Homo sapiens: one gene and its partners. The protein of the gene in region 1 interacts with the protein of each later gene in a pairwise test. Each region holds a gene or a part of one and is shown on either strand. Other genes may lie near its edges. The genes, in order: C21orf58, CCDC125 and KLHL20.

The links.
Region 2: the proteins of C21orf58 (region 1) and CCDC125 interact in a two-hybrid assay, tested with the Homo sapiens proteins (one large-scale study listed by BioGRID).
Region 3: the proteins of C21orf58 (region 1) and KLHL20 interact in a two-hybrid assay, tested with the Homo sapiens proteins (one large-scale study listed by BioGRID).

The regions. Positions count from the first base shown.
Region 1 is NC_000021.9:46,317,322-46,320,973, forward strand, and holds part of C21orf58 (uncharacterized protein C21orf58), read right to left. Parts: intron 3,505-3,652; exon of another isoform or gene 3,335-3,504; coding exon of another isoform or gene 3,316-3,334; intron 1,641-3,315; exon of another isoform or gene 1,464-1,640; intron 900-1,463; coding exon 691-899; intron 484-690; exon of another isoform or gene 345-483; coding exon of another isoform or gene 311-344; intron 28-310; coding exon of another isoform or gene 1-27.
Region 2 is NC_000005.10:69,326,170-69,329,821, reverse strand, and holds part of CCDC125 (coiled-coil domain-containing protein 125), read left to right. Parts: intron 1-3,652. UniProt on the Homo sapiens protein: May be involved in the regulation of cell migration.
Region 3 is NC_000001.11:173,752,921-173,756,572, reverse strand, and holds part of KLHL20 (kelch-like protein 20), read right to left. Parts: intron 3,361-3,652; coding exon 3,266-3,360; intron 651-3,265; coding exon 535-650; intron 1-534. UniProt on the Homo sapiens protein: Substrate-specific adapter of a BCR (BTB-CUL3-RBX1) E3 ubiquitin-protein ligase complex involved in interferon response and anterograde Golgi to endosome transport.

The DNA of each region.
Region 1 (3,652 bases):
GTGCTCCAGGAATGACTAAGAGGCTTTCTGAGTGAAAAGAATGGTACGTCAGGAGTAACCCAGCCTCTCCAGGGCCAACAGGCGGGAGTCAAGCCCCTCCGAGGATCTCCCTGAGCTGCCTCTGTAAGCCTGACCTCTAGCAAATTCATGTGTTCCATCCACAAGTCTAGGGGCGGATGCTCTGAGTGGTCCCTTCAGGCAGATTTCTGAAGAGCAACCCTGGGAGACACCTCACTGGTGAGGCCTCCAGGCTTCCCAGCCAGTGCATGCCTAGATCACCCCCCACCTGAACCCTGAGCTGAGCAGCTACCTGCTGGGTGTGTCCAGGGGTGAGTCCCTCTCATGGCGGCCTGTGGGCCAGGATGCAGGGCTGGCGAAAGGTGGGCAGCAGGTCCCTCAGGCAGCAGGAGAGGGAACAATGCAGGCAGGGGGTGCAGAGGTGCCCCCAGGCACCGAGGCTCCCCAGACCCTGTGCTCAGTGGCCTGCGAGGACAGGCAGGTCGGTCATGGGCCACCCAGACCCTCAGAGAATGTGAAGACTAAGTCTGAGGATGGGTCCGCTGGGCTGCCAGCCCCAGGCCTAGCCCTTGGGGCCCTGCATTCTGCACCTGCAGGGCTGTCTCGAAGAGTCCCTCCAACGCCACAGCCTGCGAGTTGTTAAAAACAGGAGCATCCCGGGCTCTGCCTCACCTGTCCCAAGAGCTTCAGCGTCAGTCGGGTCACTTGCTCTGCTGCTGATGAGTCCAGCATGGTGGGAGCTGCAGGAGACGACTGTAGGGGCAGGGGAGGCCACAGCCCACCTCCCTCCCTGGTTCTGTTACTCGCAGGAAAGAACTGCTCAGCAGGAGCCCAAGCACCGGTGTTGCCTGCAGGGCGGGCCTTACCTCCTGGAGACCAGCCTGAGGGAAGAGAAGAGCCCTGTGGGAAGATAGCCACACCCTCCCTGGACTGCAGTGCCCCAGAAGCCAGCGCTGGGCGCCGCGTGACAGTTGCCAGGCTGCCAGACACAGGGAGGCCCCAGGTTGCCAGGTTTCCACTGTGCGTCCTCAGGCTACCGGTAAACACTCATCCCCAGGTGTGGCCAGCTGGGCTTCATGGGAAGGCAAAAAAGTGGGCAGCAGCTGAGGCAGAGGGGCAGAACCCTCAGACCTGGGGGAAGGGCAGTCGTGACCCCCTATGCACCACCAGCCTCAGGACCCAGTCCAGAAGAACCTGTGTGTCAGGGGAGGGCGCCCCACCTGTGTACTGCCTCCAGGGTGTTAATACCTCCCTCCTAGGGACCCTCAGAGCAAGCAGGGAAGACAGGGTGGGGAGACACTGGGAGGACAGGGTGAGGAGACTGCCTACCAAGGAGTTCAGGAAATTGCAGGCAGCAGAAGGGGTAGGACAGAGGAGGGGTTGTGACCTGCAGAGGGGCTGGGCTTTAGCAGGACCAGAGGGGGTGCCCAGGGGATATGTCCCACCTTGGGGCTGGGGGCACTGGGCAGGGAGTCAAGTTTGCAGGAAGCTTCGCAGAGGGTGACGCAAAACAGGAGCGTGGTCTGCACTTGGTTGGGCATTAAACTCCACGTTGATGAGTTAGTCAATCCCACTAGCAGGCAGACTGACATGTGGGGGATGTCAGCAGCAGGGGCCCAGACCTGTGGACCCGAGGGGCAGAGGTCAGCACCCTCCTCGGTGCAGCTAACCCAGGAACTTGCCTCAGTGGCCAAAATTGCTCTCTTGCCCTCAGTTCTGTAAATGGCCCATGTCCATCAGTATCTATGGTTGTGTGCCTGTCCTGTCTTCCAACCCACATCCATGTAGGGACCCTGAAGCTGGACCAGTGAGTGATTGGGTGAAGGCTGGCTAGCCCGTAGGAGGTCAGGCTCACAGAGGCAGCTCATGGAGATCCTTGGAGGGGCGCACCTTACTCCTGCTGGCCCTGGAGGGGCTGGATTACTCCTGACGTAGAGTTCAACTCACCTTACCCTGGAGGCCATCCAACCAGAAATGAAGTCAGCATGAAACCAGGCCTTACCCTCCCTCCAGATCTGTGGAGGGTGTGGGCTAGGGTCACATGACCTGCCTGGTGCCACACATTCCCAGATGGCAGTCAGGGGTCCTCGCTGGTGCTGCTGGACATGAGCAGACTCTGGCCCCATGTTTAAGATCCCAGTGCCATTGGGCGTTGGCTCACGCCTGTAATCTCAGTGCTTTGGGAGGCCAAGGCAGAAGGATCACTTGAGTCCACGAGTTGGAGACCAGCCGGCACAACACAACAAGACCCCATCTCTATAAAAAATAATAAAAAAGGGCCAGGTGCGGTGGCTCATGCCTGTAATCCCAGCACTTAGGGAGGCTGAGGCAGGCAGATCACGAGGTCAGGAGGTCGAGACAACCTGGCCAACATGGTGAAACCCCGTCTCTACTAAAAATACAAAAAATTAGCCAGGCGTCGTGGTAGGCGCCTGTAATCCCAGCTACTCGGGAGGCTGAGGCAGGAGAATTGCTTGAAATCGGAAGGCAGAGTTTGCAGTGACCCAAGATTGCGCCACAGCACTCCAGCCTGGGCAACAAGAGCAAAACCTCCGTCTGGAAAAAAAATAAAAAAAATAAAAAAATAAATAAACAAGATAATAAAAGAACCTGGCTCTTGTCCACAGTCATTAACAGTGACAGTCTTGGGAGACATTTAAACAGCTCTGAGTGTGCACAGAACAAAAACCAGGTTAATTTAGTTAAGCAACTGTATAGAGCACCCTTGATATAAGTGACCTCATCTGAGAAAAGGACTCCATCTTATGTATTTTTTTTTGAGATGGAGTTTTGCTCGTTGCCCAGGCTGGAGTGCAGAGGTGGAGCCATCTCAGCTCACTGCAACCTCCGCCTCCCGGGTTCAAGTGATTCTCCTGCCTCAGCCTCCCGAGTAGCTGGGAGTACAGGTGCACGCCACCACGCCCAGTTAATCTTTGTATTTTTGGTAGAGATGGGGTTTCACCATGTTGGCCAGACTGGTCTCGAACTCCTGACCTCAAGTGATCTGCCGTCTTGGCCTCCCAAAGTGCTAGGATTAGAGGTGTGAGCCATAGCACCTGGCCCCTGATGCCTTTTAAATTATAAGATAGGGCCAGGCAGGCGGAAGTTGCAGTGAGCCAAGGTGGCACCACTACTGCACTCCATCCTGGGCAACAAGAGTGTAACTCCACCTCAAAAAAAAAAAAAAAAAAAAAAAAAGGGTATCAGGCCAACAGGGACCAGATGTTTCCTCATCAGTAGATACTGCACCCACCCAGATAAAGACATAAACAAGACACTCTTACTATCAGTCCTTACCAGAGTACTCTATGGCCATGAAAAGAGCAGAACACCACCAGGTCAAAGTGGCCGTTTTACAGACAGTCTTGCTGTCACTTGTGAGAAGCCCTCCACATCTGCTGCTGCAGGCTCTGCCCACATCAGAGATGCTTCCTTGCCAGATTCTCCTTTTCGTTGAACTGGTTAACTTTTTTTCCTCTCCTCTTTCTCTTGATGTGGAATGTTTATAACATTTATGCAGTGGTCAAGTATACTATTATGTATGGTTTGTAATACTGACTGACTTAAGGAGAGACTTGAGCCTGTGTGCCCACAGCTGTGACTGCCAAGTGAATGGGAAGCACTAAGAATTGCC
Region 2 (3,652 bases), on another chromosome or scaffold:
ATAGAAAAAAATACATCCGAGCTGGGCTCGGTGGCTCATGCCTGTAATCCCAGCACTTTGGGAGGCCGAGACAGGTGGATCATCTGAGGTCAGGAGTCCGAGACCAGCCTGGCTAACATGGTGAAATCCCATCTCTACTAAAAATACAAAAATTAGCTGGGTGTGGTGGCAGGCACCTGTAATCCCAGCTACTCAGGAGGCTGAGGTGGGAGAATCACTTGACCCAGGAGGCAGAGGTTGCAGTGAGCCGTGATCACGCCATTGCACTCCAGCCTTGGTGACAAGAGCAAAATTCCGTCTCAAAAAAAAAAAAAAAAAAAAAGACTTGAATCCTGGCTGGGCATGGTGGCTCACACCTGTAATCTCAGCACTTTGGGAGGCCGAGGCAGAAGGATTGCTTGAGCCCAGGAGTTTGAGACCAGCCTGGGCAATATAAGGAGACCTCGTCTCTACAAAAAATACAAAAATTAGCTTCTACAAGAACAAAAAAATTAGCCAGGTGTGGTGGCACATGCCTGTAGTCCCAGCTACTCGGGAGGCTGAGATGGGAGGGTCACTTGAGCCCAGAGGTCGAGGCTGCAGTGAGCTGTCACTGCACTCCAGCCTGGTCAACAGACTGAGACTCTGTCCATATAAAAATAAATACTTTAATCCTAAACGTTGACACATCTATTTTAGACAGCATATATTGATATGTTGGTTCAAGTCGTCTTTTAAAAGTCAAAGGTAGGCCGGGCGTGGTGGCTCACGCCTCTAATCCCAGCACTTTGGGAGGCCGAGGCCAGCGGATCATGAGGTCAGGAGATTGAGACCATCCTGCTTAACACGGTGAAACTCCATCTCTACTAAAAATACAAAAAATTAGCCGGGCGTGGTGGCGGACACCTGTAGTCCCAGCTACTCAGGAGGCTGAGGCAGGAGAATGGTGTGAACCCAGGAGGCGGAGCTGGCAGTGAGGTGAGATGGCGCCACTGCACTCCAGCCTGGGTGACAAAGCGAGACTCCATCTCAAAAAAAAAAAAAAGTCAAACGTATAAAGTATGAAGGAACCTCTGTGTTTATCTATTCAAGATTACCATATAGTACAGAATCAGCTGTAGATATTCTTAGATTTTGTAGTACTGTTAAAATACAATATTATAAAAATGGTATATGGAAAAATACTCTAATCCTACTAATTTATTTTTATCTTTTGTTTTTCTTCTAATCTTTGTTCTAGTACAGACAACTTTGAATTCTGCTTTTTATGTTTTACACTTGTATATGTGAGCATTTATCATGTTGCTGCCTAGTCTATACTACATAGTATTTTTATTTTTATTTTTATTTTATTTTTATTTTTTGAGATGGGGTTTCACTCTTGTTGCCCAGGCTGGAGATTATTCTTAAACTATGTTAAATACACTATAACTCTAATACTTATTTAATTAATTTTGTTTAATTACATAGTATTTTATAAAGTTGTTAAACCAAGATTTAACTATTTCTTTATTGTTCAACATATTTTATTATTTTCTAATTTTGTCCAATTAGAAATTAAATGGTAGAGTAAATTGCTGAATGCATTGAACATAAAACAGGCATAAATACAGACTCATTTTAATTTAAAAAATTAAAACAAAAAAAGTCCAGGCTTGGTGGCTCACGCCTATAATCCCAGCACTTTGGCAGACAGAGGTGAGCGGATGGCCTGAGGTCAGGAGTTTGAGACTAACCTGGCCAACATGGTGAAACCTTGTCTCTACTAAAATACAAAAATTAGCTGGGCATGGTGGCAGGTGCCTATAATGCCAGTTACCTGGGAGGCTGAGGCACAAGAATTGCTACAACCTGGGAGGCGGAGGTTGCAGTGAGCTGAGATTGCGCCATTGCACTCCAGCCCTCAATAAAACCAAAAGGACACTTTTATTCCTAGCAAAACCTAATAGTCTGGAGAACATGTTCCATGGAGCACACTTTGGAAAATGCTGATACAGAAACAATTTTAGAGCTCTGAAGAACCAAAAATCTAGTCCCCTAAATTGACAATTGAAGAAAATAGTATTCAAATTCAATAAACATTGATTTGGCTACCATAGTTGATTTCAAATATATCAGTGGTGCCCAAAAATGTCCCAATAAAGTAGTTATGCTTAAACCCCTGTTAAGAAATAAAACAGGCTCTAAGAAGTTAAATGACTTACCCAAGATCAAAAAGTGGCAAGTGGTGAAGTGAGATTTGAACCCAGACCTCTCGAGTCAGTGCCTTCTCCGTTAACACATCCTGCTGCTTCCCTGGTCATCAACCCTGAATACATTAAACTGGTTGGATAGTTTAGTGACTTCAAATATTTTCACTTTCTTGGAAGTAATGTGTTTCAAAAGTGAAGTTTAATTTGTATGGTATTTCATGTTACCTTACTATCAGCATATAAAAAGTGGGAGAATAGGCCAGGCGGGGTGGCTCATGCCTGTAATCCCAGCACTTTGGGAGACCGAGGCAGGCAGATCATGAGGTCAGGAGATCGAGACCATCCTGGCTAACGCGGTGAAACCCCATCTCTACTAAAAATACAAAAAATTAGCCGGGCGTGGTGGCGGGCACCTGTAGTCCCAACCGCTCAGGAGGCTGAGGCAGGAGACTGGCATGAACCCGGGAGGCGGAGCTTGCAGTGAGCCGAGATCTCGCCAGGGCACTCCAGCCTGGGCGACAGAGCAAGACGCTGTCTCAAAAAAAAAAAAAAAAAAGTGGGAGAATATACAGTCAGCAGTCCCTGAAGTTACATTTTATTTTATTTATTTTTAGAGACAGGGTCTTGCTCTGTTGACCAGACTAGAGTGCAGTGGCGTGATCACAGCTCACTGCAGCCTTGACTTCCCACCTCAGGCTCCCGTGTAGCTTGGGACTACAGGTGTGCACCACCATGCCCAGCAGTTTTCTTTTTTTCCTTTTTTTGTAGACATGAGGTCTCACTGTGTTGCCCAGGCTGGTCTGAACTACTAGGCTCAAGCAGTCCTCCTTCTTTGGCCTCACAAAGTTCAGGGATTACAGACATGAGCCACCATTCCCAGCCTGAAGTTAAGTTTAAGAAACAGTAGGCAGGGATAAAAAACAAACAAAACAACAACAAAACCTCATTATATTCAACTCTGAATAGCAGGAAGGCGTACCCATGATGCCTGAATTTATGTGGTGCATTGAAAAATATTCTTAGCTAACTCTACAATTGCTTACTCTTTCCTTTTACAGCTTTTCCCCCTTATATTGACCAATTCCATTTTCTTCTCTGCTGCCTGCCTAATCCTGACCACACCCTTCTTAACACAGGCCAGAGGTTGCCCTTAACAAGCAGGAGTCTACTGCACTAGAGGTAAAACACAGCCTCTCAAGGGATTATTCTTTGATTCAATAAATATCTTCTTATCTACCTTGACAAAATAGGTAAATCTCCTTTTTAAGGAAATAATCTTGTAAAAGAACCAAGATGATTTTATAAAAATCTGGGAAAAAGTGGATCCAGAATCTGTTAGATGTTGCTCAAACTAGATATTTTAGACTTTTACTTTAAGTTCTATTTGAAGTCATAAATAATAGAAACTTGGTATACTCTGATGTTAATTTCATTGAAATTCTCCAAATAATACAAAACAGTGGCTAAGAGTGTTGGCTCTG
Region 3 (3,652 bases), on another chromosome or scaffold:
AACAAAACATCTACTGCACGACATTTTTATTTTTTATTTTTTGAGACAGGATCTTGTTCTGTTCCCCAGGCTGGAGTACAGTGGTGCAATCACAGCTCACTGCAGCCTTGACCTCCTAGGCTCAAGCCATCCTCCTGTCTCAGCCTCCCAAGTAGCTGGGACTACAGACATGCACTACCACACTCAGCCAATTGTTTTTCTTATTTTTTGTAAAGATGGGGCCTCCCTATATTGCCCAGGCTGGTCTCAAACGCCTGGCCTCCAGAAAGCTGTATAGGCATGAGCCACTGTGACCAGCCAACATTTTTGGATTTATATAAAAATAGATATTAAAGGTGTTGAATGAGAAAAAAGAATAGAGCACTCTTTTGGAGTATATCAGTGTGGAATCATGGGTTATGAGTCAAGCTATATGCTGACTTATTATTTGTGTCTTATGACAGTAAATATCATAATTGTCCAAAGGATTTTTCAAATGACAGTTTCTCACCTGGGAAAATACTCAATTTACTAACAGTATATTAAGATCCAAACCTGCAAAGAGTACTTCCCCACATCGGATAGGTTTCCGTGGTCTCGTCCTTGGTCCTTGCATTAGTGGTCGTTCTTGCGGCAATAGGAGGTAGTTTTTAGCCTCATCTACCAAGTCTCTGTAGAAAAAATTCTGCCTTTATTCCAAATATCTAAATTACATTGTTAGTTAAGTCCCAATGTAGTTTAGGAATATATAGGTTGGCAAAGGGAAGCAAGCATAAATCAAACCAAATCATGAATGCCAGCCAATATTAAAATTGGCACAAACATGAAACCAATAATGCCAGTCAAACTGAGTTGTGAATTGATTGGTATTTCCATCATGACTCATGTCTCACTGCAAATTTAGCCTAAAGCTCAACATGCTTACAGCCAACAATAACTTATAGAAAAGTAAAAATTACAATTTGATTACCACACTGCAGAGTTACTACTTTTTAATAAATTTTATTAGATTCTGCAAGATATTAGCAAGGTAGCACATCAGCCAGGGCAATAGTTATTTGCTAGATTAAAGTAATAAAACTGGGTCAAAAATCGGATTGCTGAAAAGAAACACTGTACTGCCACAAATTTGCTATCTGGTAACATATGAATGGTTTACTCTCAACAAGTCTACCGAGACATATTTCCTGTCTTGTTAAGACACTTTAAGAGAAGAGTCTAGTAATTACACATGTAATGACTTTGCAGTGGCTCACGCCTGTAATCCCAGCACTTTGGGAGGCTGAGGGGCGGTGGATCATGAGGTCAAGAGATTGAGACCATCCTGGCCAATATGGTGAAACCCCGTCTCTACTAAAAATACAAAAAGTAGCTGGGTGTGGTGGTACGCGCCTGTAGTCCCAGCTACTCAGGAGGCTGAAGCAGGAGAATCGGTTGAACTTGGGAGGCAGAGGTTGCAGTGAGTCGAGATTGCACCACTGCACTCCAGCCTGGCAACAGAGCGAGACTCCGTCTCAAAAAAAAAAAAAAAAAAGACAAAGACTTTGATCTCCTAATAGCTTGTTAGGTCATTTGAGGGTTCCTACAAATAATACTATAGAGCTATAATATTGAGCAAACCAACACAAAATTAATGGTAGTAACAACACTTACAGCTATGTGCTAGTCCTGGTTTTAAGTGCTTAATAGATATAAACTCATTTAATCTTCACAACAGCCTTATGGAATAGGCACTATTATCATCCTCACTTTATAGAGGAAGAAACTGCAGCAAAAAGAAGTTAGGATATCAGGAAGGGTCTTCTTTTAAATATGACTTCATAAGTACTTTTACTTTCTGCATCAGAATCAGTACAATACAATCTGATTTACTTTTAATGGAGGAGGGCATCTATGTATTATTTCTTCAGATTTCAGCATGTATAATGTACATGGTTTTCCTTTTTGCTACTGCAAATATTTAGGAGAATTAATTGCCATTTGTCTGTGTGTTTTTTTTTTTTTTTTTTGAGACTGAGTTTCACTTTTGTTGCCCAGGCTGGAGAGCAATGGTGTGATCTTGGCTCACCGCAACCTCCACCTCCCAGGTTCAAGCAATTCTCCTGCCTCAGCCTCCTGAATAGCTGGGATTACAGGCATGCACCACCATGTCCAGCTAATTTTTGTATTTTTAGTACAGATGCAGTTTCTCCATGTTGAGGCTGGTCTCGAACTCCTGACCTCAGGTGATACACCCACCTCGGCCTCCCAAAGTGCTGGGATTACAGGCGTGAGCCACTGCGCCCGGCCTGTCTGTGTTTTAAATATAGAATACAAAAATCTAGTTTAACTCTAGTCTATGGTAAACTGAAAAATGAAGAATGATTAATATAAAAAAGATACAATAAAATAAAATAGAAACATCTAAAATCCCCTCCAGCCTCTCCTGTTAAAAGAACAGGCTTTAGTTTATAGAAGAAATGCAAGTGAATCTACATGTCCTACCACCATTCTAGAATCAGGGATCATTCTAAATGTCTTTAATCACCAAGGGAGGTTCAAAGGTCAGTGTAGTTTACAAAGTTCTGAGTATGGATTTTCTCTTTCACTTTTATATTTGGGACATGCTGGGGAAAAATGGTTAACAATCCCAGATGATTTCAGATTTGAACCTAAATCTTACAATCTGTCAAATTGGGAATGTAATTTATTACATTTTGTATATACTTTAAAGACAGCCTAGTAAAATAGGTTGCTTTTTTCCCCCCCTTTGAAAAAGTAGTTAAGAGTTTCTTTCGTCAAAAAACCTCTGGAAACTGCTTCACCTAGTTTTAGTGAAAATCTTTCTACAGCTGTTTTAGAAAGTGGCAGATCTTCAACTCTGTCCACAATTTAGAAAGCAAGGCTGATTCTATTCCCCAACCAGACATATGTGATGGAAGGAAAAAATGTTCATTGACAGAGTCAACAGCATTATTTAATTATCTCAAGGAAAAAAAAAATATTAGCAGAGAATTGACTCTTTAAATTCAAGCCTGCATTAAAATCTTGGAAATCTACCTTTTTATTGCCACTTCTACACCAGTAAGCACCACACATAAAAACCTAATGGAATGAAACACTGGAAGTTCAGTTCTCTCTTCTTCTTTTCCTCCTCTTGACTCTAGCCCAGAAGAAAACCTTGTTAAATTAAAGCCCTGGTTTCAGCTCTGCAAAATACAATATTTAGGAAGCAATACAAATAAGGAAATTAGGAAAAAATAGGAATGCTTAGTTGTTGATTTTTCCCATCCAGGGTCACTCATACCTGCATTCTTCATCACTTTTGATGAGGGGATCAGAGCCTACTGTGCCGACCAGGAACTTGGGACTAAGCAAAGGCAAACGAACATGCTGCAGCACCTATGAGAAAATAAACACCATTATTTTAATTAATTAATTTTGAGATAGGTCTTACTCTGTTGCCTAGGCTGGAGTACAGTGGCATGATCGTAGGTCACTGCAGCCTCAATCTCCTGGGCTCAAGTGATGTGCCTACCTCAGCCTCCAGAGTAGCTGCAACTACAAGTGCATGCCACCATGCCCAACAAATTTTTGTATTTTTTTTTTTGTAGAAACGGGGAATCACCACGCTGCCCAGGCTGGTCTCAAACACCTGAGCTCAAGTGATCTGCCTGCCTTATCCTCCCAAGTG